Regions from separate parts of the Homo sapiens genome. Here regions 2, 3 and 4 are each linked to region 1. Evidence: fine-mapped expression QTL. A gene starts in region 1. Each other region holds a variant in brackets. All regions are shown on one strand. Distances are from middle to middle.

Evidence for each region. PIP is the estimated chance that this variant, and not a neighbour inherited with it, causes the effect. A credible set is the group of variants that fine-mapping cannot tell apart.
Region 2: its variant is the best candidate, but not a certain one, in a credible set for the expression of IDUA in whole blood (INTERVAL, PIP 0.89).
Region 3: its variant is the best candidate, but not a certain one, in a credible set for the expression of IDUA in atrial appendage (GTEx, PIP 0.72).
Region 4: its variant is the best candidate, but not a certain one, in a credible set for the expression of IDUA in whole blood (INTERVAL, PIP 0.52).

The regions. Positions count from the first base shown.
Region 1 is chr4:982,860-989,539 of GRCh38, reverse strand. IDUA (alpha-L-iduronidase) reads right to left here and starts at 2,496. Exons shown (of 14, transcript NM_000203.5): 1 at 2,298-2,496; 2 at 1,591-1,731. The coding sequence starts at 2,455. It overlaps SLC26A1 (solute carrier family 26 member 1), which reads left to right. Exons shown (of 3, transcript NM_022042.4): 3 at 1-1,883. The coding sequence ends at 707. RefSeq lists enhancers at 1-269, 2,850-2,909, 4,085-4,134 and silencers at 2,030-2,207, 1,990-2,639.
Region 2 is chr4:887,814-895,381 of GRCh38, reverse strand. It overlaps GAK (cyclin G associated kinase), which reads left to right. Exons shown (of 28, transcript NM_005255.4): 8 at 1,373-1,508; 9 at 1,893-2,005; 10 at 4,760-4,850; 11 at 6,412-6,535. Among named protein-coding and RNA genes, the nearest start is that of GAK, 41 kb to the left of the region's middle. The variant C/T (reference allele first, on the strand shown) is at 3,233.
Region 3 is chr4:843,734-851,301 of GRCh38, reverse strand. GAK (cyclin G associated kinase) reads left to right here. Exons shown (of 28, transcript NM_005255.4): 26 at 218-366; 27 at 1,234-1,410; 28 at 1,528-2,025. The coding sequence ends at 1,629. LOC105374340 (a long non-coding RNA gene) reads left to right here and starts at 4,481. Exons shown (of 4, transcript XR_925033.3): 1 at 4,481-4,905; 2 at 5,917-6,222; 3 at 6,820-6,870. The variant G/A (reference allele first, on the strand shown) is at 3,976.
Region 4 is chr4:1,019,098-1,026,665 of GRCh38, reverse strand. It overlaps FGFRL1 (fibroblast growth factor receptor like 1), which reads right to left. Exons shown (of 7, transcript NM_001004356.3): 3 at 4,191-4,463; 4 at 2,945-3,025; 5 at 2,565-2,849; 6 at 2,002-2,355; 7 at 1-1,761. The coding sequence ends at 1,319. Among named protein-coding and RNA genes, the nearest start is that of FGFRL1, 11 kb to the right of the region's middle. RefSeq lists enhancers at 1-419, 420-921. The variant C/T (reference allele first, on the strand shown) is at 4,175.

The DNA of each region.
Region 1 (6,680 bases):
GCCCGGCTGACGCGCTGGTCTGGGCAGGCACCGCGGCCACCTGTATGCTGGTCAGCACAGAGGCCGGGCTGCTGGCTGGCGTCATCCTCTCGCTGCTCAGCCTGGCCGGCCGCACCCAACGCCCACGCACCGCCCTGCTGGCCCGCATCGGGGACACGGCCTTCTACGAGGATGCCACAGAGTTCGAGGGCCTCGTCCCTGAGCCCGGCGTGCGGGTGTTCCGCTTTGGGGGGCCGCTGTACTATGCCAACAAGGACTTCTTCCTGCAGTCACTCTACAGCCTCACGGGGCTGGACGCAGGGTGCATGGCTGCCAGGAGGAAGGAGGGGGGCTCAGAGACGGGGGTCGGTGAGGGAGGCCCTGCCCAGGGCGAGGACCTGGGCCCGGTTAGCACCAGGGCTGCGCTGGTGCCCGCAGCGGCCGGCTTCCACACAGTGGTCATCGACTGCGCCCCGCTGCTGTTCCTAGACGCAGCCGGTGTGAGCACGCTGCAGGACCTGCGCCGAGACTACGGGGCCCTGGGCATCAGCCTGCTGCTAGCCTGCTGCAGCCCGCCTGTGAGAGACATTCTGAGCAGAGGAGGCTTCCTCGGGGAGGGCCCCGGGGACACGGCTGAGGAGGAGCAGCTGTTCCTCAGTGTGCACGATGCCGTGCAGACAGCACGAGCCCGCCACAGGGAGCTGGAGGCCACCGATGCCCATCTGTAGCAGGGCCAGGCCTGCCCAGCAGCCTCTGCTCCCTCCTGGGGACCCACAGCAGACGTCTGCAAGCCACTGCTGAGACCCTTCCCAGGGAGGAGCCACCCAAGAGCTGCACTCTTGTGCCACAGCTGCCCTGGGGAAACCGGGGAACCCCAACTGGGAAAGGAGGCCCTCTGATCACACGCAGGACCCAAACACTCAGAAATCAAGAACCTCTGCCTCCGAGACAGGCTGGCCCACAGTGCTGGCTGGGCCCCAATGCACCGTCCCTCAGCTCAGGAGGGATGGGCCTGACCTGACGCTCAGGGTTGACATCTTATTTGAACAAGGGTCCCCCGCCATCATGCAGCCTCCAAGGTGCCAAGAGGACTCCCTATGCCCAGGCCTGCCCGGTGCCCACCCTGCTGGTAGGAGCCAGCGGCTCTGGCCAAGTGCACGAGGGTCTCTGTGTTTCCAGAAGGCCCCACACACCCAAGTGCCCCTCACACCTCGTGCCTCCCCCTCACAGGGTGGCCACCTGCACCAGCGTCAGGGCCCAGGGTGCTGTGACCGATGAGACCTCAGCTCAGCCCTCAGGTGCAGTGGCCCTACCCAGCCTGGCCAGCAGACACACACAGGGATGCTCACGGGTGCACCAGGAGCCAGGTGCGGCGCAGCCAACCCTGAGCCTGCAGGGAGACCTGCAGGAAGCCCACCGTGCCCCATGCAGGGGCTCCCTCCAGCACACAGCCCTCACCCCAGCACAGCCAGCAAGGACACGCTCTCCCCAACAGGGTGCTTCGGCGGGAGGTGGGGGAACAAGGGGTCTTCCGAGCAGCCCCCAGCCCTCCCCTCCCATCTGTGCCTCTGTAAGGGGCTCTGGGACGCCCAGACCCTGCCCGCCGCCCACCTGGTGGTGACAAGCTCCAGCAGCCAGTGGGTCCGGACCTGCTTGATGCCGCGGTGAGGGACGGCGCCCACATAGGCGAGGTTGAGCTGCTGGTCCCAGCTGAGGACGTACTGGTCAGCCTGGCTGTGTGGCAGCGGGGGGCTGGGGACAACAAAGGGGCGGCTCAGTCCCGAGCCTCAGCATGGCTGGCAGCGCGGCTGACACACACGTTCAAGCCCAGGACTGCCCGGGCGCAGGATCCAGGCGCTGCCCGTGCGTTCAGTGACTAATAAAATGACCCTTAGGGCCAGGAATGTGGGGAGGTCCCATCTTCATGGGGAACGGCAGCAGCAGTAAGACGAGGGGCCAACGCCAGCCCTGGCCCTGGCCCTGCCAGGAAGGCGGGTACCTCAGCTCTAGGTGGAAGGAATGGGACAGGCAGGCCAGGTCCCGCTGCAGGGCCGTCCACTCCCAGGGGAGACTCCTGGTTTACCTCAAAGAGCAGGATCCCGGGCATCGGCCTGGGCTGCAGGGGGCGGCCCAGGCTCACGCCCCGGCGCCCACTCAGGTGGAGGACCCACCCACAAACACGGCGGGGGGCGGGCCCGGGAGAGCCAGGGCCCCAGAGGAGGGAGCTCCGGTCTCTGAAGCTCTCACAGTGCGCAGTCAGGGGGCGCCCGAGCTCTCCCCGTGCGGCCAGGGGGTCCCGGAGGCCGCGGAGCGCTCACCAGAAGCCTGTGCTCCTCCAGAAGCGCCGCAGGGGCCACAGCGCGCGGGCCGCGTCCACATGCACCAGGTGCGGGGCCTCGGCCGGGGCCACCGGGGGCGCGGCCAGGAGCGAGGCCAGGAGCGCCAGCAGCGCGGCGCGGGGGCGCAGGGGACGCATGGCCACGCGTGCTCGGGGACTGCGGGGCTTCGGGCTGCACTGCCGGTTCCGCCTCCGGGTCGGAGTCTGGGCGCGCACCCCATGTGACCGCCGCCGCGGGGCGGGGCCTTGGTGAGGGGGCGATGGCCGGGTGGGAGGGGTTGGGTGGCCTCGGGGAGCCTCGGGGAGCCGGGAGCACGGCAGGGCTTGGAGCCCCGCTTCCTTGCGGGCCTCAGGGGCTGCTCTGAGGACCGATGACTCGGAAAGCGCTCAGAAGAACGCTTCGCCCGTTGGTGCTATGTGAGTTGAGCCATTACTGTCTTGTTTTTCTCTGTTTTTGTGTGTTTTTGAGACAGAGTCTTGCTTTGTCGCCCAGGCTGAGGTGCAGTGGCGCGATCTCAGCTCACTGCAACCTCCATCTCCGGGGCTTCAGCGATTTTCTCACCCCAGCCTCCTGAGTAAAGCGTGCGCTTTAGCAGGAAGGAGAATTACCCCAGAAGAGCACACTGGGCCCTCCTTACACTTGGCTTCAGATCCATGGATTCAACCAAGCAGACTGAAAATATTGTTTTAAAGCCAAAGCAATACGAAATAATACATATTTTAAAACAATACAGTATAACAGCTATTTACAGAGCATTTACATTGTTTTAGGGACTATAAGTAATCTTGATTTAAACTACACAGTAGGATGTGCGTAGGTAATGTGCAAATACTGTGCCATTTTATATCAAGTACTTGAGCACCTGCAAATTTTGGTATCTGGGAGGGTCCTGGAACCAATACCCCGAGGATACCATGGGACAACTGTAGTACATGTGTAGTCCATGTATGCATGTGTGAATCCAAGCAAACATTGTATAAAAATAATAATGGAAAGAACAGGCTTGGTGCGGTGGCTCACACCTGCAATCCCAGCACTTTGGAATTGCAGGCCAACACGGGAGGATCACTTGAGGCCTGGAGTTTGAAATCGGCCTGGGAGATGTACCAAGACCCCATCTGTACAAAAAAAAAATTTAGCCAGATGCGATGGTATATGCCTGTGAGGCCCAGCTACCCACGAAATTGAGGTGGGAGATTGCTTGAGCTTAGGAGTTCAAGGCTGAGACGGGCCATGATCACACCACTACATTCCAGCCTGGTTGACAAAATGAGACCCCATCTCTAAAAAAAGAAAAGAAAAAAAGAACAGTCTACTAACAAAACGAAAATACTGGACAATAATCCTCTCTAAGTTGGGAGAAGGATAATTAGAGTTACAGTGTTCTGGGTCTTTTTATTTTGGGGAGAGGGGTTAAAATATTGCTTAACATTAGGTCTTCTTATGTTGAAATTGCATTAAAAGTGATTAGCCATTTAAAAGTGAAATAGTGTGTATATATTCCAAATTAGCAAGGAGGAAAAACATAATACAAAAAAATTCATTAAGAAACTAAAAAGTAAGAAAGGGAGGGAAAGGCGAGAGAAACCATGCAAGTACAGAACTGTCTCCAGGAACAGCGGGGTAAGACCCTCAGTCCAACGACCCCAGAGAAAACAACTAAAATGATGGATAACTCGCTTTAAAAACAATTCCTCAAAGCGTCAGAGAACTGAGAAAAACAGTAAGAAACCACCAGTCCCACACCGTGGTGCAGGACACAGCAATGGAAACTGAATTGTTTCAGACCAGCCGCCTCCTGAGAGCAACCATCAGAACTGGAGAGCGCTGAACGGAACCGTCCAGGGCACTGGGAGCTCTGAGGAGCCTCTGAGGCCTCGGGGCTCTGCAGGGACAAGCCGGGAGGGGGCGGGGCCCGCTTTGGGGCGGCGACTCCACACCCCTGCAGCGTATCCCAGCCACACAAGACATGGCGACACGCTGCTGCGTTCGTTCCTCACACTGTGGCCACAGGACAGAAGTCGAGGCTCAGGCGGGGGGCCTGGTAAAGACTTTGGGTTTTTCTTGGGACCCCAAAGTTCTATCCCCTAAAAGCAAAGGTAAACCAGCAACAGAATTGTCTTTGTGGGGACTGAAGCCAGCCTTAAATCACCTCAAGCCCTGAGAGAATTAAGGTGAGCCGCTCACCGGGACACCTGTGGACAGAAAAGTACACCTTCCCTGGAGGAAGGTAAAACAAAACAAAAACAGACAGAAGTCCTCACTGCACGGTGCTGGAATGGATCCGGGTCAGGAAAAATTATTACAAAGTGCATGATGGGGACATTCACAATTTGGAATATGCCTTGTACATTGTGCAACAAAATTCTACCAATGATAAACTCCAGAATTTTTTTTGTTTTTGTTTTTTGTTTTTTTAAACGAAGTCTCACTCTGTTGTCCAGGCTGGAGTGCAGTGGTGCGATCTCAGCTCATTGCAACCTCTGCCTCAGCCTCCTGAGTAGCTGGGATTACAGGCATGAGCCACCACGCCCAGCCAATTTTTGTATTTTCAGTAGAGACAGCGTTTTACCATCCTGGCCAGGCTGGTCTCGACCTCCTGACCTCGAATGATCCACCTGTCTCGGCCTCCCAAAGTGCTGGGATTATAGGCATGAGCCACCGCGCTGGGTCAAACTCCAGAATTATTAAACGACTCAATGATTGCATCACGGTTGTGAATGGAGATTTTTTGTTCATTTGTGATCCATGCTGAAGGGTTTAGAGGTGAAGAATCAATAGATTTGTAACCAAAGTTGCTCTGGAAATTAAAGCAAAACAATAAATTTAGATTACATACAGAGACTGAGATAAAAGCAAAGGTAGCAAAATATTAACAGTTGGTGAACCTGGGTGAAAACTATATACTGTTATTGCAACTTTTCTGTGAGTTTGAAATTTTTCAAAATGAAAACATTGAAAAAAATATTAAAACCTCATGAAACTTAGTAAAAATTTATTGAATGATACACTTGAACTTGCTTCATTTTATTGTATGTAAATCATATCTCAGTAAAGCTGATAACGAATTGGTTTAACAGCAAATTAAATCCAACTAGGCTGAGCAAGGTGGCTCATGCCTGTAATCCCAGCACTTTGGGAGGCTGAGGCGGGCAGATCACCTGAGGTCAGGAGTTCGAGACCAGCCTGGCCAACATGGTGAAACCCTGTCTCTACCAAAAATACAAAAATTAGCCGGGCGTGGTGGCATGCGTCTGTAATCCCAGCTACTCAGGAGGCTGAGGCAGGAGAATTGCTTTAACCTGGGAGGCAGAGGCTGCAGTGAACCAAGATCACGTCACTGCACTCCAGCCTGGGCAACAGAGTGAGACCCTGTTTCAAAAAGAAAAGACAAAATTAAATGGTGTTCTTCAAGTAGAAAGAATGATGTCCCAAATCCCAGCTCAGAGGTGCAGAGGAAGAAGTGAAGAGTGCGGGGGGAAGGGAAAACCTCCCCTGCCTTTCTGAAGTTTCACTAAAAGGGTACACAGATTTCTTGGATTGTAGTTTTATGTGACACAGCAGCTTTCAGAGCAAAGACCTAAAGGCGCAGGGGAAACCACATTTTTATACTCAGGTTCTGTGAATCTGGAAATAGGATTGGACGAAAGGTTAAGACCTGACAGGCTAACAGACTCCTGGGGGAGCCCAGCGAGGCCCATCTGCTTCGGTTCCTGGAGGCCTCTCTCTGCAGCTCTCCCTCCTGCTGGGTGGGGGCACAACGCCCCGGAATAGGGGTCTGACCACATACAGTCAAACAAGGCAGGCCAGAGAATTCCTTTATGGCCAGTTTTTACACAGAAAGACAGAGAAAAGTTATTAGAGTCATACTTTTAGGTTTATGGCTGGCTTTGGGGAAAAGGGGCTTAGGTTTCTACGACCTGCCTGGGACAATGAGGGGCCAGAGACAGGAGGCAGGAGAAGGCCTGGCTTCCAAGGCCTTCACTCTGGGTGACATTTTCTGAACCCCAACAAAAGCAACAGAAACGGTATATTGTGTATAAACCTAATGAATCGTAACCGCATAAAACAATCATGTTACAGGGTTTCACATATTTCTGGGGAATTAGGATTTACAGCAAGAGTGGCACAGGTGCTGTATGGGAAAAGTGAAGTGAGAGGGGAGGAGAGCCTCCTGAAGACGCCCTCCGTCCTGTCCAGGCCCGCGCCTGTCGCCTCACATGGCGAGCGCCTGCAGGCATGGTTCCGTGAAGCATCCAAGACGTAGAGATGATTCTAGTTATCCGAGTGGGCCCTGAGTGTAATCCCAGTGTTCCTATACAGGGGAGACGGAGGGGGGTTTGACACAGAGGAGGCTGTAAC
Region 2 (7,568 bases), 95 kb after region 1:
TCTTGCTCGGCCTGGGGTCCCGGTGTGAGCTCTTACTCTTGGCTGGATAAGATCCTGATGCCGAAGTAATCACCAGTCCCTTCTCTGGGCTCACATATTGGGTGATTGACGAGAAGTCGCTGATTGTTCAAGGCCAGTTCTGCGAAAATCCTGAGCAGACTGAGGAGGCTGCTTCCTGCAGCTTCTGCCCTGTGCCCTACACCCTGCATATGGGGTCAGTTCTGAAAAGTGGGTCTCTGCTGTTGCCAAGGACAGGACAGGTGCCTTGCCCCTCGCATAGCACACAGCAGGGTCTGTGCTGGTCCCACCAGCTCATAGATCTTCAGTGCATGAGTGTGGGAACCCCGGAATTTTGAAAGGAACCTTTATTTATTTATTTATTTATTTATTTATTTATTTATTTGAGACAGAGTCTCGCTTTGTTGCTAGGCTGGAGGGCAGTGGCGCGATCTCGGCGCACTGCAACCTCTGCCTCCCGGGTTCAAGCAGTTCTTTGCCTCAGCCTCCTGAGTAGCTGGGACTACAGGCATGCACCACCACGCCTGGCTAATTTTTGTATTTTTAGTAGAGACGGGATTTCACCATGTTGGCCAGGCTGGTCTTGAACTCCTGACCTTGTCATCCACCCGCCTCGGCCTCCCAAAGTGCTGGGATTACAGGCGTGAGCCACTGCGCCCGGCCTGAACGGAACTTTTTAATCTTAAGAGCCTAGAGTCCGTTTAACACTGTCACCTGGACAGTTCTTTGCGGTGAATAGAAGTGGAGCATCCAGGCCTCCCCGTGCCGTGGGAAGCACGCCGCCAGCTCCGCACAGTCAAGTGATGTTTGTGTAACCACCGACTATACCCCTAGGATCCCCAAGGAAGGAGCCACCCCTCGGCCAGTCACCATGTCTGCGGTGCTCCTCTCACGCCCTTGTCCCCTTGGGCTCGGGCATCACCCCTGCTCTCCCCTCAGACCTGGGAGTCACCCCTGCACTCCCCGCAGGCCCAGGAGTCACCCCTGCGCTCCCCACGGCTCCGACGTCACCCCTGCATTCCCCGCAGGCCTGGGTGTCACCCCTGCACTCCCCACAGGCCCAGGCGTCACCCCTGCGCTCCCCACGGCCCCAACGTCACCCCTGCGCTCCCCGCGGCCCGGGTGTCACCCCTGTTGTTCCCGCAGGCCCCGGTGTCACCCCTGCATTTCCCATGTTCCCGATATCACCCCTGTGTTCCCTGCAGTCCCCAGTGTCACCCCTGCGCTCCCCACGGCTCCGATGTCACCCCTGCATTCCCCGTGGGCCTGGGCATCACCCCTGCTCTCCCCGCAGGCCCAGGCGTCACCCCTGCGCTCCCCGTGGGCCTAGGCATCACCCCTGCTCTCCCCGCAGGCCCTGGGCTGCATCTTGTACCTGCTGTGCTTCCGGCAGCACCCTTTTGAGGATGGAGCGAAACTTCGAATAGTCAATGGGAAGTACTCGATCCCCCCGCACGACACGCAGTACACGGTCTTCCACAGCCTCATCCGTAAGTCCCGGTGGAATGCGTGCGTGGGGCAGGACCCTGGAGCACAGACCCCGCGTGGCTCTGGAGACCCCGCTCCCCTTGGGGCACTGCTCACCTGGCCCCACTCCCGCCCGTCACCATAGTTTTGACAACATCCCTGGGGGGGGGGTTTCCAGAGAGCTCCCCTGCCGCCCACCCCGCTGGTGAATTTGCGGTGCTCTGAGTGGTGATTTTTGATCATTTTGTTCGGTTTTTGTTCTTCCCTTTGCCGCTCCCTTCTTGCTTCTGACGTCACTGATGTGTGTAGAGGGAGTGGCCTCTGGTGGTCTGTGACCTCTGCCAGTGCAGGGGGTGCTGACCCGCCTGGGGAACCGTGGGGCCGAGCGCGCTGTGCTTCTGCTGCAGGCGCCATGCTGCAGGTGAACCCGGAGGAGCGGCTGTCCATCGCCGAGGTGGTGCACCAGCTGCAGGAGATCGCGGCCGCCCGCAACGTGAACCCCAAGTCTCCCATCACAGAGGTGAGGGAGGCACACGTGAGCCCCAAATCCCCCGCAGTGGTGAAGGAGGCACACATGAGCCCCAGATCCCCCGCAGAGGGGAGGGAGGCACATGTGAGCCCCAGATCCCCTGCAGAAGGGAGGGAGGCACACGTGAACCCTAAGTCTCCTATCACAGAGGGGAGGGAGGCACACGTGAGCCCCAGATCCCCCGCAGAGGGGAGGGAGGCACATGTGAACCCCAAGTCTCCTATCACAGAGGGGCGGGAGGCACACCTGAACCCCAAGTTTCCTATCACAGAGGGGAGGGAGGCACATGTGAGCCCCAAATCCCCCCACAGAGAGGAGGGTGGCATGTGGCTGTGCTGCTTCGTCCGGACCCTGCACCCTGGGGGTCTCTGCCCACTTCAGTGGGGAGCCACAAGCTCTTGAGGGCCCTGGGCTCCTGCAGGAGCAGGGTCACCACCGCAGCCCAGGGCCGAGACCCCGGGGGCATGCTGGGACCATTGCCAAGGTCTTCGCACTCTGCACGCGCTCCTCTGGCCTCCTTGAGGTTTGCAGGCGCCTTTCTAGATTCTTCCCCTGACAGGACAGCATGAATTGCTCCTGTGTCTTTGTTTCTGGGGTCTGGTGTCCAAGCCAGGTCAGCCAGCCCTCAGCTCTGGGCGTCCTGGGGTGTCCTGAGTTGCTCTGCGTCTGTGTTTCTGACCCTCAGCTCAGCTCTGGGCGTCCTGGTTGCAGTTGTGTCAGGGCTGGGCCTGGCCAGGGTCCACTCCCAGGCACCGGTGGCTGCTGGCAGCATCAGGGCCTGGGGGCTGGGAGACTGAGGCCCACAGGGCCGTGTGCTTTGTGGAAGTGTGAGGCCTGGGAGGGAGCAGCACGTGTTGGCTGGAAGATGCTTTCCTCAGAGTCTTTTCTGACCCAGCCGTGGACAGGGTGCAGCATCTCCATCACCAGATCCTCGAGGCAGAGCAGACACGCGGCCCGGCCCTCACCCACGGGGAGCAGGGAGGCCCCTGGGCATCCCAGCTCAGGGCCCAGTCAGGACACGCAGGGCCCCTCTGCAGATCTCGCAGGGGTCTGTGTCCAAGGACCCAGGACTCTTGGCTCCTGCATTTTGTCCCCTTTTCAGCCCTTGGGTCGTTTCCACTCCCTGGTAGCTGGAAGCCGGAACTTCCAGGGGCCACTGCAGTGGAGCTGACCCAGGCGGTGGGTGTGGAGCGTGGGGAGAAGGTCAGAGCTGCTGCC[C/T]GGAGTCCCTGTCTGAGGACAGGACCCTGTGGGACAAGGAAGGTTTGGGCTGTGTGGAGGGTTTGCAGTTCCTTGGGGGCCGCGTGGGTACAGAGACCTGGGAGCAGGGAAGTGCTGGGAAGCCCAGTGCAGACGGGGAGAGGCTGTGGTGCCCCTCTCTGGCGGCCATCATGGTGGGTGCACCAGCAGAGGGAGCCCTGGTGCTGGGTGCTGGAAGCATTTTGAGGTGTGGGGCGCTCTGAGGCGGGAGAGTTGATGTCACTGGTGGCCTCTCAGCAAGCTTCCCTGGGGCTGTCAGAGAGCGGCAGGAAGGGATCACTCCTGGGCCGTCCTGCTCTTTAGCAGCCTGGGCCTCGTGTCCCCCTCGCTTGGTGGCTCTTTACAGAAAATGCCTGCCCACTCCCCCGGAGGTCACAGAGGACAGTGGGCTCGCAGGGGGGTGTGGGCCTCTTGCTTTGTCGAGTGCGCTGGAGGGATTCTTGATGGGGCGGGAGGAGGTGCCGCTGGGCAGATGGGCAGAATCAGGCCCCTAGTGATGGGGCGGGGTCCTCAGTGCTTCTCATCTGAGTGCTTCTAGGCCGGGACCCCGTGGGGACAGACGTTAGACCCCTGCTTAAGCCAACCGACTCCCCCAGAAAACACAGTCCATGATGGAGCTGAGTTCACAATGAAATAAAATACTGCCCCCAGGAGGTAGTGAGCCTCACAGGGTGGCCCCCAGAACCCAGGAGCTGAAGTGATGGAACATCCTGGGACAGACAGGCCATGTGTCTGCTTAATATGGTTGGGCATGCGAGGTGGAGGCTGCAGTGAGCCCAGATCATGCCACTGCACTCCAGCCTGGGAGACAGAGTGAGACTCCGTTTCAAAAAAAAAAAAAAGAAAAAAAGCCTGGGTGCAGTGGCTCACGCCTGTAATCCTAGCACTTTGGGAAGCCGAGGCAGGCGAATTGCCTCAGCTCAGGAGTTCAAGACCAGCCTGGGCAACGTGGTGAAACCCCATCTCTACTAAAATACAAAACAAATTAGCCAGGCGTGGTGGCGCATGCCTGTAGTCCCAGCTACTCTGGGAGGCTGAGGCAGGAGAATTGCTTGAACTCATGAGGCGGAGGTTGCGGTGAGCTGAGATCGTGCCACAGCCCTCCAGCACTGCAGCCTGGGTCACAGAGCAAGACTCTGTCTCTACCAAAAAAAAAAAAAAAAATGTTGGTTGGACAGACTGGGAAGAGAGAGAAAAGGAAAAGGAACAGAAGCTGTAGCCCAAGAGTCTGAAAAGCTGGGCTGGAGTGCTGAGCACCTGCAACAGCCCCAAGCGAGGCAGGCCGCGGGGTGAGGGGATGAGGGCTGCGTGCGTTTGTTGAGTTCCAGCTGATGCTTCAGCCTGTGGGAAGTTCCTCCCTTGCACTGTGTCATAGATCAGGGGGCAGAAGGATGGGCTCTGAGGGCACCCATACCGTACCTCTGCCCGACGTGGGCAGGCGTGAGTTGTCAGTTTAGAGAACTGACCTCTGCATTTTCATTGTCACAGCTCCTGGAGCAGAATGGAGGCTACGGGAGCGCCACACTGTCCCGAGGGCCACCCCCTCCCGTGGGCCCCGCTGGCAGTGGCTACAGTGGAGGTGAGTGCCCTGTCCTGTGCCCGCCACCTGTCCCTCGCTCCTGCTGCACCCCGGGCACCCGCAGCACATTGGGATGGAGTCTGGGGTCCTTCTCTCCCGGGGCCTCCTCTCCCACCAGAGATGACTGTGAGGTCAGGGTCCCTGAGCACACCCTCAGGTTCGGCAGTTCCCTGGGGCTCACAGAGCTCAGCAAAGCTGGTGTCTTGGTGCAGTTCAGGAGGGGGTCAGGATTCGGACTAAAGCCAGCCAAGGGAAGAGGCTCCAGGGCAGGGCCCAGGAGACCGGGCCCGAGTGACCAGGCGGCCTCGCTCAGGGGTTATGTGGGAGGCAGCCTGCGCCGTGGCCAAGACCCCAGCATAGATCACATTGTCGTGTCTGGCACAGCCCAAGGCCCCAGGGAAACAGACACCCCTTTTGGGGCTGGAGGGGGCATCCCAGGTTCCTTCCCAGGAGCTGGGAATGAAGGGCCAGGCCTGCTGTGGGCAAGGTGAACCATTTACTACAGTAGCGACCCTGAGGCCAGGGGGCAGGAGCAGGCATTGGACAGTGGAGGGCGGTGGGGGAAGACAGTTCTGCCGCTAGTGTGAGGTGGCCCCTTCTGCCGCATGAGGAGTGGGCACCTGTGATGGGCCTGGGTGTCCCTGGAGGGCCCTCAGCTGGTGAGGAGTGGAGAGGGCCCTGGAGACAGACGCTGCATGCTCTTGGAACTCCGTGCCGGGAGTGTTCCAGAAGGTTCCGGGTGAGCCGTCGAGGACATGGCCCTGACAGGCAGCGGCTGGGTCTGCAGCTCTGCATGGCGCTGACCCCTCCCGACCTCGCCCCGCATCCCCACTGCGGTGTGGGAGGTTTCACCTGGGTCCTTCACCTCCGCTTCCCAGGGAGGAGCTCAGCTCCATGTCTGGGGCACCCCGGTCCGTGCAGTGTGGGTCCCACACATGCAGGTGTAGTGGCTGGCTGGGTCTCTGCTGGCTGGAGGAAGGGTGAGTCCTCGAGCTGCTGGGTTCTGCAGTGCCCCCATCTGCTCGGTGCTGCCTGGGCCTCGGTCTCCTGTCTGCATGAGGGACTTTGGCCAGGTGTTTTTTTTTTAACACCACTTGTGCCACCAAAGCCGCCTGTGAAGACCTCACTCGCAGGACCCACCAGGCCAGGGGCCACCACTCTGCCTTCACGTCCAGGGTCATGGTGGCCTGAAGCTGTGGCCGTGAGGCCGGACTATCCCCACAGACAGAGTCCCAGCCCCAGCTGTGCTGAGGCGGCCACATAGCCCTTCCGCACCCAGATTGACCATTTCCTGGGTCTCTGGAAAGGCTGAGGACAGGGTAGACCTGCCAGTGCTGAGGCCTGGCTTCCCGCTGGGTACGTGTGGGTCAGGGGCCTGGCCATACCACCCACTCCCTGCTCCTGCTGCCTGGGCCCAGCCAGCAACCTGCACCTGGGGAGGTGGGACCGAGCGCCTGGGGAGGTGGGACCGAGCGCCTGGGGCCTGGGCCCAGCCAGCAACCCGCACCTGGGGAGGTGGGACCGAGCACCTGGGGCCTGCTGAGACTGTGTCTCCCTGCAGGCCTGGCGCTGGCGGAGTACGACCAGCCGTATGGCGGCTTCCTGGACATTCTGCGGGGTGGGACAGAGCGGCTCTTCACCAACCTCAAGGACACCTCCTCCAAGGTCATCCAGTCCGTCGCTAAGTGAGTGTGAGGCTCCAGAGCCCTGGACCTGCCGCACGCTCGTTCCAGGCTGCAGCCCCGGCCCTTGCTTCCTGGCTGCGGTGGAACAGCTGGTCATCAGGCCCCACAGGGGCCCCTGAGGCAGTGGGACAGCATCACCCGCTTCTCCCAGGGAGTCGGAATGAGCCCAGCATCCCACAGAGCCAGGCAGATCCCTTTCCTTTCATCGCCTGGGGGGCAAGGCCCTGCTGAGGAGATGCCTGGGCCCTCCCCTCCCTTGCTGCAATGTCGCCCCTCACTCTGGGGCGTTCCTGGCTTGTTCCCGGGACTCTGTAAATTGGGTGAAACCTCGGTGGTGGCGCCTCACTGAGCCAGTCCTTGAGTTAAAGCCCTAGTTACTCAGACTTAGACCAGGTGAGTCCCAGCCTGTGGTGGGAGAAAGTCTCCCTCTGGGTGGGCTGTCCAAGGGCGCGTCTGTGCGGGGGTGGCCCCGACATCGGCCCACAGGCCCGGCAGCCTCTGCTCACGGAACACTGGGAATGTTCCAGAGTGCGGCCCCTCTGCGTTGCGGGGTCCATGCGCTGGCTCTTCTGAGGAGCTGAACGCCCAGGAGCACGCTGGCTGCTCATCTGGCCCTGCGGTCGCACCAGCTCAAGGGCGTCGGCTATGTCAGGAAACAGCCTAGGAGCTGGGCTGGACTGGTGCCCGTGATGCAGGAACTGCGGCCCCTGGTGGGCCCACGTTCCTTCCACAGCTGGCGACACCTTCGGGCTTTTTCTTATGTTTTTTGTTCTGTGCTGTGATCACTGTTTTGTGTCCCCAGCACCAGGTAGACGTGTGTGCACTTGTGCCTGCATGTACCGCAGCGTCTGCACATGTGAGCGTGGGTGCATGTGTCTTTGAGCATGTGTGCATGTGAGGGAATGGGTGTGTTAACATACATATGTGAACATGTGTGCATGTGTGTGTAAATGCTGGTGTGAGTATGTGCATAGGCGTGTGTGATTGCTGGTATGAGCATGTGTGCTGGTGCTTGTGAGTCCTTGTGCTTGTG
Region 3 (7,568 bases), 140 kb after region 1:
CAACAGTGATACCTCCTCTCTACAAAAAATGTAAAAATTAGCCAGGCATGGTGGCGCATGCCTGTGGTCCCAGCTACTTGGGAGGCTGAGGCAAGAGGATCGCTTGAGGCCGGGAGGCAAAGGCTGCAGAGAGCTGAGATCACGCCATTGCACTCTGGCCTGGGTGACAGAGTGGAGACCCTGTCTCAAACAAAAAAAAGTTTCTGTTCTTTTCTAGCTCAAAAGCCAAAAGTCTCTGAGAACGACTTTGAAGATCTGTTGTCCAATCAAGGCTTCTCCTCCAGGTCTGACAAGAAAGGGCCAAAGACCATTGCAGAGATGAGGAAGCAGGACCTGGCTAAAGACACGGACCCACTCAAGCTGAAGGTGGGTGGGTGGGCAGCTCTTCCTGGGAGCCCAGAGGCCTCAACCCATGGCCCCTGGAGCATCTGCTGTGCCTTATGGAGCCGGCGTCTCCAGACAGCAACCTTTCACCCCTGGAGCATCTGCTGTACCACATGGAGCCGGCGTCTCCAGACAGGGACCTGTCACTGCCGATGGGCCTGGCAGCCCTCAAGGACAGGGTGGCCTGAGGCCAGGGGGGCAGGGCAGAGTCAGGCCCCAGGCTGTGCTGCTCCCCACGTGCCCAGATGGCTCAGCGCTGGTGGGGGTGGGGTGGGCGGGCGTTACAGGAGTGAGTGCCCCGGGGTGTTTGCAGAGACTGTTGAGGGCAGGCGTCTCTTGGGGGCTGCTCTGGGTACTGAGCCTCCCAACCCAGGACGCTCACTGGGGGGTGAGGATGCAGCGGTCAGGCTGTCACTGTGCCGGCCCTGAGACACGCCCTGCTCTGTGGCTTGGCCGATGCCCAGCTCTGCAGGCCACATGCGCCTGTGACCTTGGGGTCCTTTCACAGGCACCAGGGACCATCCCCTTCTCCCTCGGAGTCTGGGGCCTGGGATGGGCCAAGGGGTTGCACCACCAGAACCAGGGTTTGTGTCCTCGGTGAACATCTGGCTGAGACGAGGGTCCCTCTGGCCCCAGGCCCTGAAACATGAAGACCACCTGGCCCTGTGTCGTCCGGAGTGGGCTCTATATAGTTGAGGGCAGGGCGTGCAGTGGGACAGTGTCTGTGAGCCGGGCTGAGCCCACCCCACGTGACCAGGCACTTCCTCAGCGTCGTGCCTCAGTTTCCGCGGTGCAGAGGAGGAGGGCAGGCAGGTGCCCAGGGCTCGGCAAGCTCCGTGTCTCCCGCAGCTCCTGGACTGGATTGAGGGCAAGGAGCGGAACATCCGGGCCCTGCTGTCCACGCTGCACACAGTGCTGTGGGACGGGGAGAGCCGCTGGACGCCCGTGGGCATGGCCGACCTGGTGGCTCCGGAGCAAGTGAAGAAGCACTATCGCCGCGCGGTGCTGGCTGTGCACCCCGACAAGGTGAGCAGAGCTGCCAGGCGGCCGCTTGAGGCCTTCAGGGGCGGGGCGGGGGGGGGGTCCTGCCCCGCCCGCCCCCGCATGCTTATAAGAGGCGCTTACACCGCCTGTCACCCATAGGCTGCGGGGCAGCCGTACGAGCAGCACGCCAAGATGATCTTCATGGAGCTGAATGACGCCTGGTCGGAGTTTGAGAACCAGGGCTCCCGGCCCCTCTTCTGAGGCCGCAGTGGTGGTGGCTGCGCACACAGCTCCACAGGTTGGGAGCCGTCGTGGGACCTGGGTCCCCACCGTGAGGACCCCGTGGGCGACAGCAGGTGTGGCCAGGGTGGGGCTCCGAGCCCCGGGTCACCGCCCGCCCAGCGTTCCAGGCACATGAAGAGAAAGCATTCCAAAGCCTCTGATTGTTGTTTCCTTTTTCTCCTCCCGAAGGAACAGCTGATTCATGCTCCTCCCGCAATTGTCACGTCTGTGATTTATTTGGTGTTTCGGGCGTGGCCTCTGGAGCCCCGGCACGTGGTGGGCCACGCTGCTGGCGCTCATGGGCCCTGGTGTTTGCACCGCACTTTGTAATCAGTCCCGTGGTTGTCTGTACAGAATTAAACTATTTTCCGATGACTGCTGTGTCTCCAGTGTGGATCCACTCGCCCAGGTGCCGTTCACCAGCTGGGGCACAAGGCTGTGCTTCCTCAGCAACCTTGCCGTGGTTGGATTGTTGCAGGGGCCGAGTGGAGAGGAGAAGCGGGTCCCGGGGCTGCAGCGGCTCTGGGCAGCTCTTCAGGGGGCCATAGAGCCCAGCCAGGGCAAGGCCAAGGGCGGGGGCCCCTGCAGTCCCCAGACCCCCTTCCTCCCCTCGGCCCCGGGACTCCTCTCTCCTCTCCACTTGGCCCCTGCCCCTGGGCCCTGGACCTAGGAGCAAGGGTGGGCTCCACACTGCCCCTGTGCCATCCCCGCAGGGCCAAGGTGGCCTCCGGGCTGTCGGGCTGGTGGAGGACCAGGGGCCCCTGGAAGGAGAAGGTGACCATGGTGAGCCCCCACCCCACAGCAGACTCGAGGAGGCCCTGAATCATAGCCCTGAACTCACCGCCAGGCTCTTCCTGTTTTCAGAGAATAATGACTGCACGTTTGCTATGCACCCGCCACTATTTTTAGCTCTTTTAAAAAATAATGAGAAGCTAAATAGGTGCTGAGATTTTCACATCAAGGTCGTCTGGATTCCGGCTCCGGGTCTGGCCACCCCAACTCAGATGCTCCTGCTCTGGGGGCAGCTCGGGCCACGCTCCCTCTAGGCTCTCCAGCCTCAGCCCTGTGCTGTGCGGCCCCCTCCTCTCCTGCTGCCGCCCACGTCACACCCAAGCTCCAAACTAATCCCCCAGACCCCGCCCCAGACCCTTAACTCTGAAAGCTTGGGTCGCTTCTCCCCGGCCTGTGGCAAACCCAGCCACCCTGCCTGGACAAGTGAGTCCACCTCCCTCTGGCTGGCTGCACACCCTTCCTCCGTCAGGGGCCTGAGCCTCTGGTTATGTGTGGAGAGCAGCGGGTGGCCGGTCCAGGCTAGGCCGAGACTGCGGAGGATGGAGGAAGGTGTGGAGTGCAGCAGGTCACTGGTCCGGGGTAGGCTGAGATGGAGTGCATAGAATGGAGGCCAGGACGGTGGGGTCTGGGTTGCAGGACAGGAAAACCCCCATCCAGGCTGACCCAGCTCAGAAGGGAGTCTGTGGCCCCCACCTGGCCATGCTACCGCCAGAATTTCTCCTCTTCCAACCATTCAGCTCAGCATGGAGACACGCAGGTGCACAGGCATGTACAAGCCGTGCGCACACGCAGACGGCTACACAAGGTCACACACGGTGCCACCCAGACACCTGCGCACACGCAGACATGGCTGCACAGGGTCACGCACGGCGTTACCCGGACACCTGCGCACATGCAGACGGCTGCACAGGGTCACGCATGGCGCCACCCGGACACCTGCGCACACGCAGACACGGCTGCACAGGGTCACGCACGGCGCCACCCGGACACCCACACGTGAAAGGCCCAGGATGCACCATCTTCCCAGCCGGCCACTGGCCTGAGTGCTACCCACAGTCACTGAGGCTCCATTCTGCACGTGGGAGCCGGGTCTGCGGTCACCGAGCCTGTGACTATGCTCCGTCCTGCACGTGGACACAAGGTCATCCTTGCCGGGTTGTAATGCATAGACCACGTGAAGCTTGAAGAGAGACTGCACCTGTGTGACACCCCCTTGTGTGACAGCATCTTCTCGGTGACTTCACGGAGATACAAATGGCAGCGGCCAAGCAGCGATGCTCACATCACTGGTCCTGGAGGAAATGCAAGTTGGAGCCACAGCAAGATGCTGCCGCACCCACTAGGGCACCCAGTCAAGACCCACCAAGCCAAGTGTCCCCACGCATGTGGAGAAGCCCACACCCTCACGCAGTCTGGGTGGGAGCTTAAAATGGCACAACTGCTTTGGAAAACCGCTTGGCAGTCTTTTTTTTTTTTTTTTTTGAGACGGAGTCTCGCTCTGTCGCCCAGGCTGGAGTGCAGTGGCGGGATCTC[G/A]GCTCACTGCAAGCTCCGCCTCCCGGGTTCACGCCATTCTCCTGCCTCAGCCTCCCAAGTAGCTGGGACTACAGGCGCCCGCCACTACGCCCGGCTAATTTTTTGTATTTTTAGTAGAGACGGGGTTTCACCGTGTTAGCCGGGATGGTCTCGATCTCCTGACCTCGTGATCCACCCGCCTCGGCCTCCCAAAGTGCTGGGATTACAGGTGTGAGCCACCGCGCCCGGCCGGCAGTCTTTTAAAAAGCAAAATAGACGCCGGTGCGGTGGCTCACACCTGTAATCCCAACACTTCGGGAGGCGGAGGCGGAGGCAGGCGGATCACCTGAGGTCAGGAGTTGGAGACCAGCCTGACCAACATGGAGAAACCCCGTCTGTACTAAAAATACAAAATTAGCCGGGCATGGTGGCACACACCTGTAGTCCCAGCTACTCGGGAGGCTGAGGCAGGAGAATCGCTTGAACCTTGAGAGGCGGAGGTTGCAGTGAGCCGAGATCGCGCCATTGCACTCTAGCCTGAGCAACAAGAGCAAAACTCCATGTCAAAAAGAAAAAAAAAAAGCAAAATAGAAATTTCGTACACAGTTTAGCAATCTGCTCCTAGGTGTTGACCCAAGAGAAATGAAAGAGCAAGGCCACACAGACGTGTTCAGGAACAACCCATGATCCACGCACAGCTGGACATACGAAGGAGCTGTGTGCGTCCACGCCACGGGGTCCTGCTCAGCATGGAGAGGGGTGAGCTGCTGGTGTGACGGCGCCACGGGGTCCTGCTCAGCATGGAGAGGGGTGAGCTGCTGGTGTGACGGCGCCACGGGGTCCTGCTCAGCATGGAGAGGGGTGAGCTGCTGGTGTGACGGCGCCACGGGGTCCTGCTCAGCATGGAGAGGGGTGAGCTGCTGGTGTGACTGCAGCACAGGGCATGCCCAGGTGTGTTAGTCTGTTCTCACACTGCTATAAACACATATCTCAGACAGGGTGATTTATAAAGAAAAGAGGATTAATGGACTCACAGTTCCACATAGCTGGGGAGGCCTCATGAAAGTTACAATCATGGCGGAAGGCGAAGGGGAAGCAGGCACGTCTTAGCTGGTGGGAGGAGGGAGAGCGAGTGAGTAAAAGGGGAAAGTGCTGCACGCTTCCAAACAAGCAGATCTTGTGAGAACTCACTATCCGGAGAATAGCAAGGGGAAGTCTGCCCCAGGATCTAGTCACCCCCCAGCAGGCCCCTCCCCTGACATGTGGCGATTACAGTTTGGCAGGAGATTTGGGTGGGGACACAGATCCAAACCATACTGTCAGAAGAGCAGCAAGCTCAGTAAATGGGGCCAGATCAAAAGGAGGGAGGTAGTGAACGACTCCATTCGTGTAAAATTCCAGCAAATGTGAAGTCCGCGACAGGCCAGCAGCAGATCCGTGGCTGGCGGGTGTGGGCGGAGGAGGATGTGCTGGCTTCAGGCAAGCACGCGTCAAATGCCTCAAACTGTGCTCCTCAAACGTGTGCAGATTGCATTTCTGTCCTGCGGGGGCTCAGACCCTCAATAGTAAGCTCCAGTGGGTTAAGCAGGCTGCTTTCCAGGTGGCCCGTGACACCCCCCCATCCCCCAGATGTCCAGCTGCCCTCAGGCCACCTCCCTGGGCTCCCATGGGCCTCCTCTCCCTGTGCCCCCAGGGAGCTCCAGGGCTCTGAGGAAGGCCAACCCCAGAGGTGTGGGCATCTGCCCCAAGATGGAGGCCCCCCCCAACTCTGTGGGCCTCCAAGTGGGAGGACTTGGCTGCAAGGAGATGAGGGGGGCACTGAGTCATGCAGGAGGCCAGTGTGGCTGGAATGAGGTTCAGATCTGGGGGAGGGGCTGATTTTGTCCCTGAGCTGCTTTTAGCAGAAAAGCTGAGTGCTGAGGTCAGCTGAGGCTGAAGTCCTGCTTATGTCTTCATCTCCAGGAGCTCATCCCCGCTCCTGCACTGTGGCCATAGCTCCAGGCAGCCGCGCGCCGACCCCACCCACAGGCCTGGGTGGAGCTGAAGGTCTAAGCCCCATGCCAGACCCTCATCCAGGCAGCGACCCCTGGGCACAGGGGGCATGGCAGGGACACCGATTTCCTCCTCCTTCTGTCAGTTTGGACAAAGATTCCAGGGCCACAGACCACCGTCTGGCCGCCCCAAACTGCTTTCTCCAAAAGGGCTTGCCCCAAAGCTTTGCCCACCGAGTCCTGGAGCTGCTGAGCGTCCTGCCGGGCCTCACCTTAGGTAAGAAACAGCAGCAGCCTCAGCAGCTGGCTGTTCTCACCTTCACTACCTCCAGGAGCTCTGAGGAAAAGCACAGCAACCCAAGGGCAGGGGGAGGCTGTGCTGCCAGTTGGGGGTGGCCCCTGTGCGCATACCAGCATCAGAGCCCCTTCAGATGGGGTGGGAACCTGCCCCCAGCCCCAGGTGTGCCGGGCAGTCATGCGCAAGCTGAGGATGCTGGTCTCAGGTCTAGGGCACCCCCTTTGTGGAAGAGGCTGCAGACCCCGTAGATGTCATGGGCCTCAGATTAGGATAGAGGGGGCTTCCGGTTGGTCTAATGACTGGAGAAGGGCCCAGAAGAGGCAGGTCCATGCGGCACAGCCCCCACATTCTGGCCTTGGCACTTCCCCAAGATCAAACTCCAAGTCCCTGCTGCCAGCCCCCTCAGCTGCTGATGTGGTTGGCTCTGTATCCCCATCCGAATCTCATCTCGAATTGTAATCCCCACATGTTGAGGGAGGGAGGTGATTGGATCCTGGGGGTGGTTTCCCCCTGGTGAGTGAGTGCTCACAAGATCTGGCTGTTTGATAAGTGTGAGGCTCTTCTCTCTTTGTGCAGTCTCTCCTGTCGCCTTGTGAGGAAGTGCCTGCTTCCCCTTCCACCATGATTGTAAGTTTCCTGAGACCTACCCAGCCATGGGGAACTGTGAGTCAATTAAATCTCTTTCCTTTATAAATCACCCAGTCTTGGGTATTTCTTTTTTTTTTGAGACGGACTCTCGCTCTGTCCCCCAGGCTGGAGTGCAGTGGTGCAATCTCAGCTCACTGCAAGCTCTGCCTCCCAGGTTCATGCCATTCTCCTGCCTCAGCCTCCCGAGTAGCTGGGACTACAGGCACCCGCCACCACGCCCACCAAATTTTTTGTATTTTTAGTAGAGATGGGTTTCACCATGTTAGCCAGGATGGTCTCGATCTCCTGACCTCGTGATCTGCCCACCTCAGCCTCCCAAAGTGCTGGGATTACAGGATTGCAGGCGTGAGCCACCATGCCCGACCTTTATTTATTTATTTATTTATTTATTTTTTAAGATGTAATCTTGACCTGTCGCTCAGGCTGGAGTCAGTGGAGCAATCTCGGCTCACTGCAACCTCCGCCTCCCAGGTTCAAGTGATTCTTCTGTCTCAGCCTCCTGAGTAGCTGGGATTACAGGCACACGCCACCATGCCCGGCTAATTTTTTTTTTTTTTTTTTTGTATTTTTAGTAGAGATGGGGTTTCACCATATTGGCCAGGCTGGTCTTGAACTCCTGAGATTGTGGTCTGCCCGCCTCAGCCTCCCACAGTGCTAGGATTACAGGCATGAGCCAC
Region 4 (7,568 bases), 37 kb before region 1:
ATTATCTTCATTTCTTAAATATAAATACCAAGGCCCCTTCTCTGTGTCAGGGGGAGAATGCAGTGGGGATGAGCCACTAGCCATGGGCTCCAGCCTCTCAGGCTTGGGGCTGCTGTGCCCCCAACCCCAGCCCACAGCAGTAGGGGACTCCTGGGCACCCAAGGCAGGTGGCAAAAATAGCCGCCAAGGCCAGGGGACAGAGGCGGGGATGGAGGCGGGGACTGAGGCGGGGACAGAGGCGGGCAGAGTTGGGGGAGTGACGGTGGAGCAGGGAAAGTCCCTCATCAACTATGAGCCTCACGGCACACGTACTGCAGGCTTCACGGCACACCCTCCCAAAAGCACGTCAGTCTGCGTGTGTCCAGGCAGCATATCTGCACCTGTGTGTGCATGTGTGTCCGGAAGTGTGTGCCCAGGCAGCATATCTGCATGTGTGCGTGCGTGTGTATCCGGACAGCATATCTGCACGTGTGTGCATGTCCAGACAGCATATCTGTGCACATGTGTGTGTCCAGGCAATATCTGCACGTGTGTGAGTGTTGAGGCAGCATTATCTGTGTGTGTGTCCAGGCAGCATATCTGCGTGCGTGTGTGTGTCCGGACAGCATATCTGTGCATGCGTGTGTGTGTCCGGACAGCATGTCTGCGTGTGTGTGTGACTAGACAGCATATCTGCGTGTGTCCAGGCAGCATATCTGCGCCTGTGCACGTGTGTCTGGAAGTGTGTGTCCAGGCAGCATATCTGCATGTGTGTGCGTGTCCAGACAGCATATCTGTGCACACGTGTGTGTGTGTGTGTCCAGGCAATATCCGTGCATGTGTGTGTCAAGGCAGCATTATCTGTGTGTCCAGGCAGCATATCTGTGCACGTGTGTGTCCGGATACCATATCTGCACGTGTGTGCGTCCAGACAGCATATCCGTGTGTGTGTGTGTGTCCAGGCAGCACATCTGCGCATGGGTGTGCGTGTGTATGTTCAGGCAGCATGTCCTTGTATGTTCTGGCATGTCTCTGTGCGTGTGCGTGCATTTGGGCAGCTTATCTGTGTGCCCAGGCGGCATATCTGTGCATGTGCGTGTGTGCGTACGTGTGCCTTCAGGGAGCACGTGTGCGCGCATGTGTGTGCATACATGCATCCAGGCAGTGTGTGTGTCTGTGTGTGTGTGTCCAGGGGCTATGCCTCACACACAGACTGCCTGGGGTGCTGGCCATTCCTCCTCGCCATGGGTCCCCTGCCTTCGTCTGCAGCTCCGTCCTCCATCCTCCCAGTCTGCCTGTCTGGCCGGCCCCCCCGTGCCCACTGCAGATACGGTGCCGTCTAGCACTGATAGTGGATGTGCTGGTGGACCTTGCCCTCCACGTGTGAGTGTGTGTGAGAGTGTGTGTGTGTGTGTGTGTGGATGTCTGTGTAGAGTTTGGGGTACAACTTAGGGCCAGCAACTGGGCCTGGGCCCAGTAAGTGCTGGGGGGCTGCCGGAGACCCATGCTCCTCACACAGCCCCACACCAGGGCCAGCGCTGAGGGCGGCCAACGAGGGAAGGTCCTTGTCTCCGCTGCGGTCGCGGGCCGTCCCCGGCGGGCGGTGCCCAGGCAGGGGAGGGGCAGGCGCGGGGGTGCACGGCTTCTTCTGGGCCTGGCAAAGCCACAGGAGCAGGGTGCCCAGGATGAAGACAGCGCCGGCTGGGATGCCGATGACCACGGGCCACGGCAGGCTAGTGGCCGAGGACGAGGAGGCCACAGGTGGCCCTGGCGGTTTTGGGTCTGCAAGAGCGAGAGGAAAGGAGGTAGGGAGGGGAACGCCGACACAAAGACCAGGAGAGCACCCCAGACCCATCCCAGGGGCTGTGGAGACGGTGCCCCTGGGCTGCCCTCCCTCGGCAGATGACCTGGCCAGCACGGCCCGGGAGGGAAGGGTGGGGCCCCACCCGGTGGGTGGGACGCCGGGCCCAGGGGGCGGGTCCGGGCACCAGCATGGTGTGGCGTGGCGTGGCAGCCGCGCACCTGGCAGCACGGTGAGGAAGGCGCTGCGGAAGCTGTAGCCCATGGTGTTGGCGCCAAGGCAGATGTACATGCCCGCATCGTCCTGGCGGGCACGGGTGATGAGCAGCTTATTGAGGTAGGAGCCGTCGGGCCGCGACCACACGTCACCCGTGGGCAGCACCACAAACTTCTGGCCGCCCACATCGATGGTGGAGTTGTGGCGGCCCTCGGCGCCGTACTCCACGCGCTTCAGCCACTGGATCACCGGCTTCACGTCGCTGCGCACCTTGCACTGGAAGGACGTGGTCCCCCCGAAGTCCACCGTCGTGTTCACGGGGTGCGTGCCTGTGAGCACGGGCTTGGAACGGGTCCGCTCTGTGGGAACGTGGCACGCGGGCATGGCTCCTGGGCCGCGCCGGACTCTACCCCGCCAGCACCCTGGGCCCACCAGCACCCCCAGCCCACCACCCCCAAGCCCTGCCAGTGCCCCCGCCCACCAGCGCCCCCGCCCACCAGCACCCCCGCCCGCCAGCGCCCCCGCCCACCAGCACCCCCCGCCCGCCAGCGCCCGGGGCCACACTCACGGATCACATCCACCTTGTAGGTGGCGTTGATGGCGCCCGCGCGGTTCGACACGCGGCAGGTGTATTTGCCGCTGTCCTCCGGCCGCAGGTTCTTCAGGCTCAGTGTCCACTTCTTCTTCCTGGGCTCAGCGGCCTCTGGGCGCGTCAAGGCCTGGTCGTCCTTCATCCACGTGATGTCGGGCCGAGGGTGCCCGCTGGCCACGCACTTGAGCCGCACGGAGCTACCCACGGGCCGTGCGATCACCCGGCGCCTCATCTTGGAGGGCTGTGTGAAGCGCGGTCGTGCTGCGGGGTGGGGTGGCGTGGAGGTCAGAGGACGGGGATGCAGCCAAGGGGCCGGGACAGACGGACGCCCCCCACCCCCGTCACCCCCTGCTCACCCCACTGCTGGCTGGCGGGGTCCTCTTGACCCCCAGAGGAGCTGTCGGGCCCCAGGCTCTCCTTCCCTGGGCTAATGTCATCTGCAGAGAGACGGAGGTGCACAGGGAGGGCAGGTGAGGGGGGCCCTGAGGAGCTCCCCCAACTCCCCCGTGGCCTCTAGCTCCCCCAGCCCCAGCCGGGACAGCCCTGGACACCCAGGCAGGGGGCTGCGCCACACACCCACAGCCCAGAATCCCAGGGACAGCTGGGCAAGGGCCGCTGGCCCACACTGGGCGCAGGTGACCCTGATGGGCACGGGTGGGGCTGGAGGGCCGGCCCCCATTCTGGCTCCGGGGGGTCTGCAGGCCCCGGGGGAGGAGGGAGCCGGGCCCGGCCAGCAGCTGCAGTAACCCTAGCCTACATCAAGGGGCCGAGGGCTGGTGAACAGACGAGACTCTCATACCACCCGGTCATCGTCCCCTTTGAAAGGACTGTGGGGTGGGGGTGGGGGACAGCCAGTTTTCCCATTCCACACAATGCCGAGGGGCAGGGCGTGCTGTGGAATGTCCCCTCCATCCACCCTGTGACAGCCGCTCCTTCACTGAGCCCAGGACCAGGCTGTCTCAGGCCGCACCCCCAGACCCTGCTGGGGCCTGGGCCAGGCTCCTGTATTCAGAAAACGGGCACATGTACCCTAAAACTTAAAGTAGAATTAAAAAAAAAAAAGAAACGGGCCAGCCCAGCTCCCAGGAGCTCCACCCGAGGGCCCCACACCCAGGAGCCCAGCGGAGCAGGCGGGGTGCCGGGTCCCTAGGTATGGAGGGCGTGTCTCTCTGGACACCTGTCCAAGCCCAGCGCCCGGGCCCCAGGCGCAGAAGAGAACAGAAAGGCCACGCATCCCGGCGGCTCCTCTGAACTCCGAAACCCGAGCCTCAAAGTCACAGCCGACGGCCGGCACACCCTGCCAAGGCCTCGGGCCCCAGCCCTTCTGTGGGACCACTGCCTTCGGCTCCCGCCCTCCACCCTCCGCCCTCCGCTGGGAGGAAGGCTCCGAGGCTGGAGCCTGACGGGGACAGGAACGGGACAGGATACCTGGGGGATGGTGGCAGAGGTGCAGCCAGCTGAGGTGGGGCAGGGCACCGAAGGAAGGCTTTCTGCCGGGGGCTGGCTGACTCTCGGGCCCCAGGTGTGTCCCCGTCCGCCCTCCTGCACACCCCTGCCTGGCTCCAACCCAGCCCATGACCTCTGAC[C/T]GCAGCAGCGACTAACCCAGCACGACGAGGGTGTAGTTGACGCTCAGGCTGCCGAAGCCGTTGGTGGCCTTGCACACGTACACGCCGGCATCCTCCCGCTCCACCTGCTTCACCTTCAGCCCCTGCGGCAGCACGCGGAAGCGGCTCCAGCCGCTGTGGATGGTGCGGCCATCCTTGGTCCACATGGTCAGCGGCGGCGGGTCCCCCTCCACTGGGCACTGCAGCCGCACAGTGCGGCCCAGCCGGGCCACCTGCCGTGGGACCACCTTGTCCGCCATCTTTGGGGGGCCTGCGGGTGGGACCGAGGAACAGTCAGCGAGGAGGGGCTTGGGGTCCGGAGCCGGGGGGGCGGTCAAAAGGGGACCCACGGCCCAGCACAGACCTCGGGCCTGAGCTCCACCTGGGTCACCTGCCCAAGATGAGCAGAGGGGCCGAGGTGCAGTGCCCCTGACCCAGGCCTCAGCTGCCCACATGCACCAAAGCCCTGAGCACTGGCCCAGCAAACACCACGTCAGCAGCCTCTCATGGCCGGGGCAGCCCCGTGGCCCCAGAGGCTGGCTCTTTGAGACACGAGAAGGGAGCAGGGTCCCCAGAGGATGCAAAACAGCTGCGCTTGGTAACTCTCGAAAACCACCAACCAAAAGGGCAGAGTCTCCTTCTGGTCATACAGGAAGCAGCCGTACACCCGAGGTCAGAGGGGACAGTGGCCCCCCAAGGACAAGGGCAGTAGGGGGATGGGGGGCCTGGTGGGTCCCAAAGAGGCCCCAGGCCCCTCACCTAATTCCCACCCAACCATCAGCCCAGGGCCCAGCCGGGCCTGGGCATGGGCCAGCGACCCCACAGCTATCCACAAGCAACCGAGCACGGCGGGCTGCCTGAGCCTGTGCAATGTGTGGATGAGAGTCTGTGCAGCACCCACGTCTGTGTCAATATCAGACCTGAGTTCAGGGACCACAGATGCCCAGGTCTGTCTGCCCACCCCCAAGGGCCGTACCCTGCCAGGCACCTTAGCCTTGAGGGGGCATGACCCCAAGGCCCTGGGGTCAGAGAGCAAGCCTCTGGAGAGACGTAGCTCGGGCTGACCACGGGCACTGCCGCTCCTGTCTGGGGGGCAGCCAGTATGTCCTCCCACCACCTGTGAAACCCACAGGAGCAGAAAGGCTGCGGCTCCACATGGCCACCTGCACCATCCCACCCTATGTGGAGAAGCCGAGCCCTCCTTTCCTGGCAGAGGCCTCCTTTCCTGGCAGAAAGGAACCCACCCCATCCCCTGCCTGGGTCCCCGCCCCACCCCATCCCCTGCCTGGGTCCCCATCCCACCCCACCCCCTGTCTGGGTCCCCACCTCACCCCTTCCCCTGCCTGGGTCCCCACCCCATTCCCTGCCTGGGTCCCCACCCCACCCCCATTCCCTGCCTGGGTCCCCACCCCGCCCCATCCCCTGCCTGGGTCCCCACCCCGCCCCTTCCCCTGCCTGGGTCCCCACCCCGCCCCATCCCCTGCCTGGGTCCCCACCCCGCCCCTTCCCCTGCCTGGGTCCCCACCCCGCCCCATCCCCTGCCTGGGTCCCCACCCAGCCCTGCCCCTTCCCCTGCCTGGGTCCCCACCCCACCCCATCCCCTGCCTGGGTCCCCACCCCGCCCCTTCCCCTGCCTGGGTCCCCACCCCGCCCCATCCCCTGCCTGGGTCCCCACCCCAGCCCCACCCCTTCCCCTGCCTGGGTCCCCACCCCACCCCATCCCCTGCCTGGGTCCCCACCCCGCCCCTTCCCCTGCCTGGGTCCCCACCCCGCCCCATCGCCCCATTCCCTGCCTGGGTCCCCACCCCATCCCCTGCCTGGGTCCCCACCCCATCCCCTGCCTCAGTCCCCACCCCACCCCATCCCCTGCCTGGGTGCCTCTGGGCTGGAAGGCAGGGCCAGGGTTCTGTGTGTGTGTGACCAGCCCCAGTGGGCAGTGCCAAGCCGGCCAGGAAGATGAACCTAGAACACACAGACCCTGCAGGCCTCAGAAACTCGGGGCACCGCAGGGCCTGTACCTGGATGGAGCTCCTGGGAAAGGAGGGCCCTGCGTGCCCCACTCCCCACGTGCTGCTCCCAAGTCCTGCAGCGGCGACCACAGCCCACTCACTGCTCTCCATGTCGGAGAGGCGGCCGCAGGCACCCCACAGTTCCCAGGGCATCTCTCGCCAGCCCATGGGTGACAGTGTCCATCCCGCACTGCAGCCACTGCTGTCTGGGAGCGTCCAGGCTGCGTGCAGAACACCAAGAGGTAGCAGCTGCTCCAGGCCATCTCGATGGGGCCTGGGGCCGCGTGTTCCTCCAATACACAGTTAACAGTGGCCCTGTGACGTCTCCCACTGGCGTCTTCAGACACTCAGGGAGCAGCTCCCATTCTGACCCCCAAGTCTGGGGACAGGGACCCTCACAGAGAATCCCTATCACCTCTCTGGAGGCCTCCCAATCAGTGCTGATAGCACAGGGGGCGTTGCCCAGGGCCTCTAGGTTCTGAGCCCACAGGCATCATTGGCCGCTGGGGCTGGGAGTGGAGACACGGCGCCTCCCTGCTGTGCCCAGAAACACAAAGGGTGGGCTGAGGCTCTGGAGGGAGGGATTCTTCTCAGCCCTGGCTCACCCGGCCCATCCCAGTCCTTGGCCTCTCTGAGAAAACATGTGGGGGTCTCTTCTCTGACTCACGTCTCTCCCTCAACTCAGGACCCTCCCACCCAGGCCATGGGCCCCAGCCCTGAAGCCCCTCCTTCCCTACCCTCCCTGCAGCTCCCCGGAGAGGAAATGAGATGGCGGCTGTGGGGGGCTGCCAGCCCACCACCCCCTCAGTGTGGTTCTGTGAGCTGCCCAGGGCTGGGGGCAGCTCTGGCAAATTTGTCCCGGGGAGGAAGCGGCTGCAGGGCCCACAGCACTGGGGCCTCCTGACCCCTTCCCAGCCGGCCCAGGTCCCAGACGCACCCCAGGTTGACCCCACCAGCACCTGTCGCTGCCTGAAATCCCACCACCCACAGGGCCTCCCGGGACCAAGGGGGAGTGGCCAAGGCCCCTGGCCAGCCCAGCCCCTGTGGCCCACAGCCTGCAGGGGTGCCTGGGCCTCCTGGCTGGCTACCTGGGCACAGGCCTCACACGTGCATGTTCATGGGTGCACACAAGTGTTCACCCACACAACTGTCCAGAAGAAGCAAGAGAGCGAGTGCCTGGCCCTGTCCTGGGTGGGAGCACACTGACCCAGCCCCCCACATCTGGGGAGGGAGCCCACCTCAGAGGCTGAAAGCCCCAGCTACACTTCGGGAAGGTTTCCCAGCCCCCACCCTGCCCCAGGCAGATACAAGCAAGGCTTGGTGAGGTAAGGGTCCCCAAAGGCATGCGGGAGGTGCAGGATGACAGG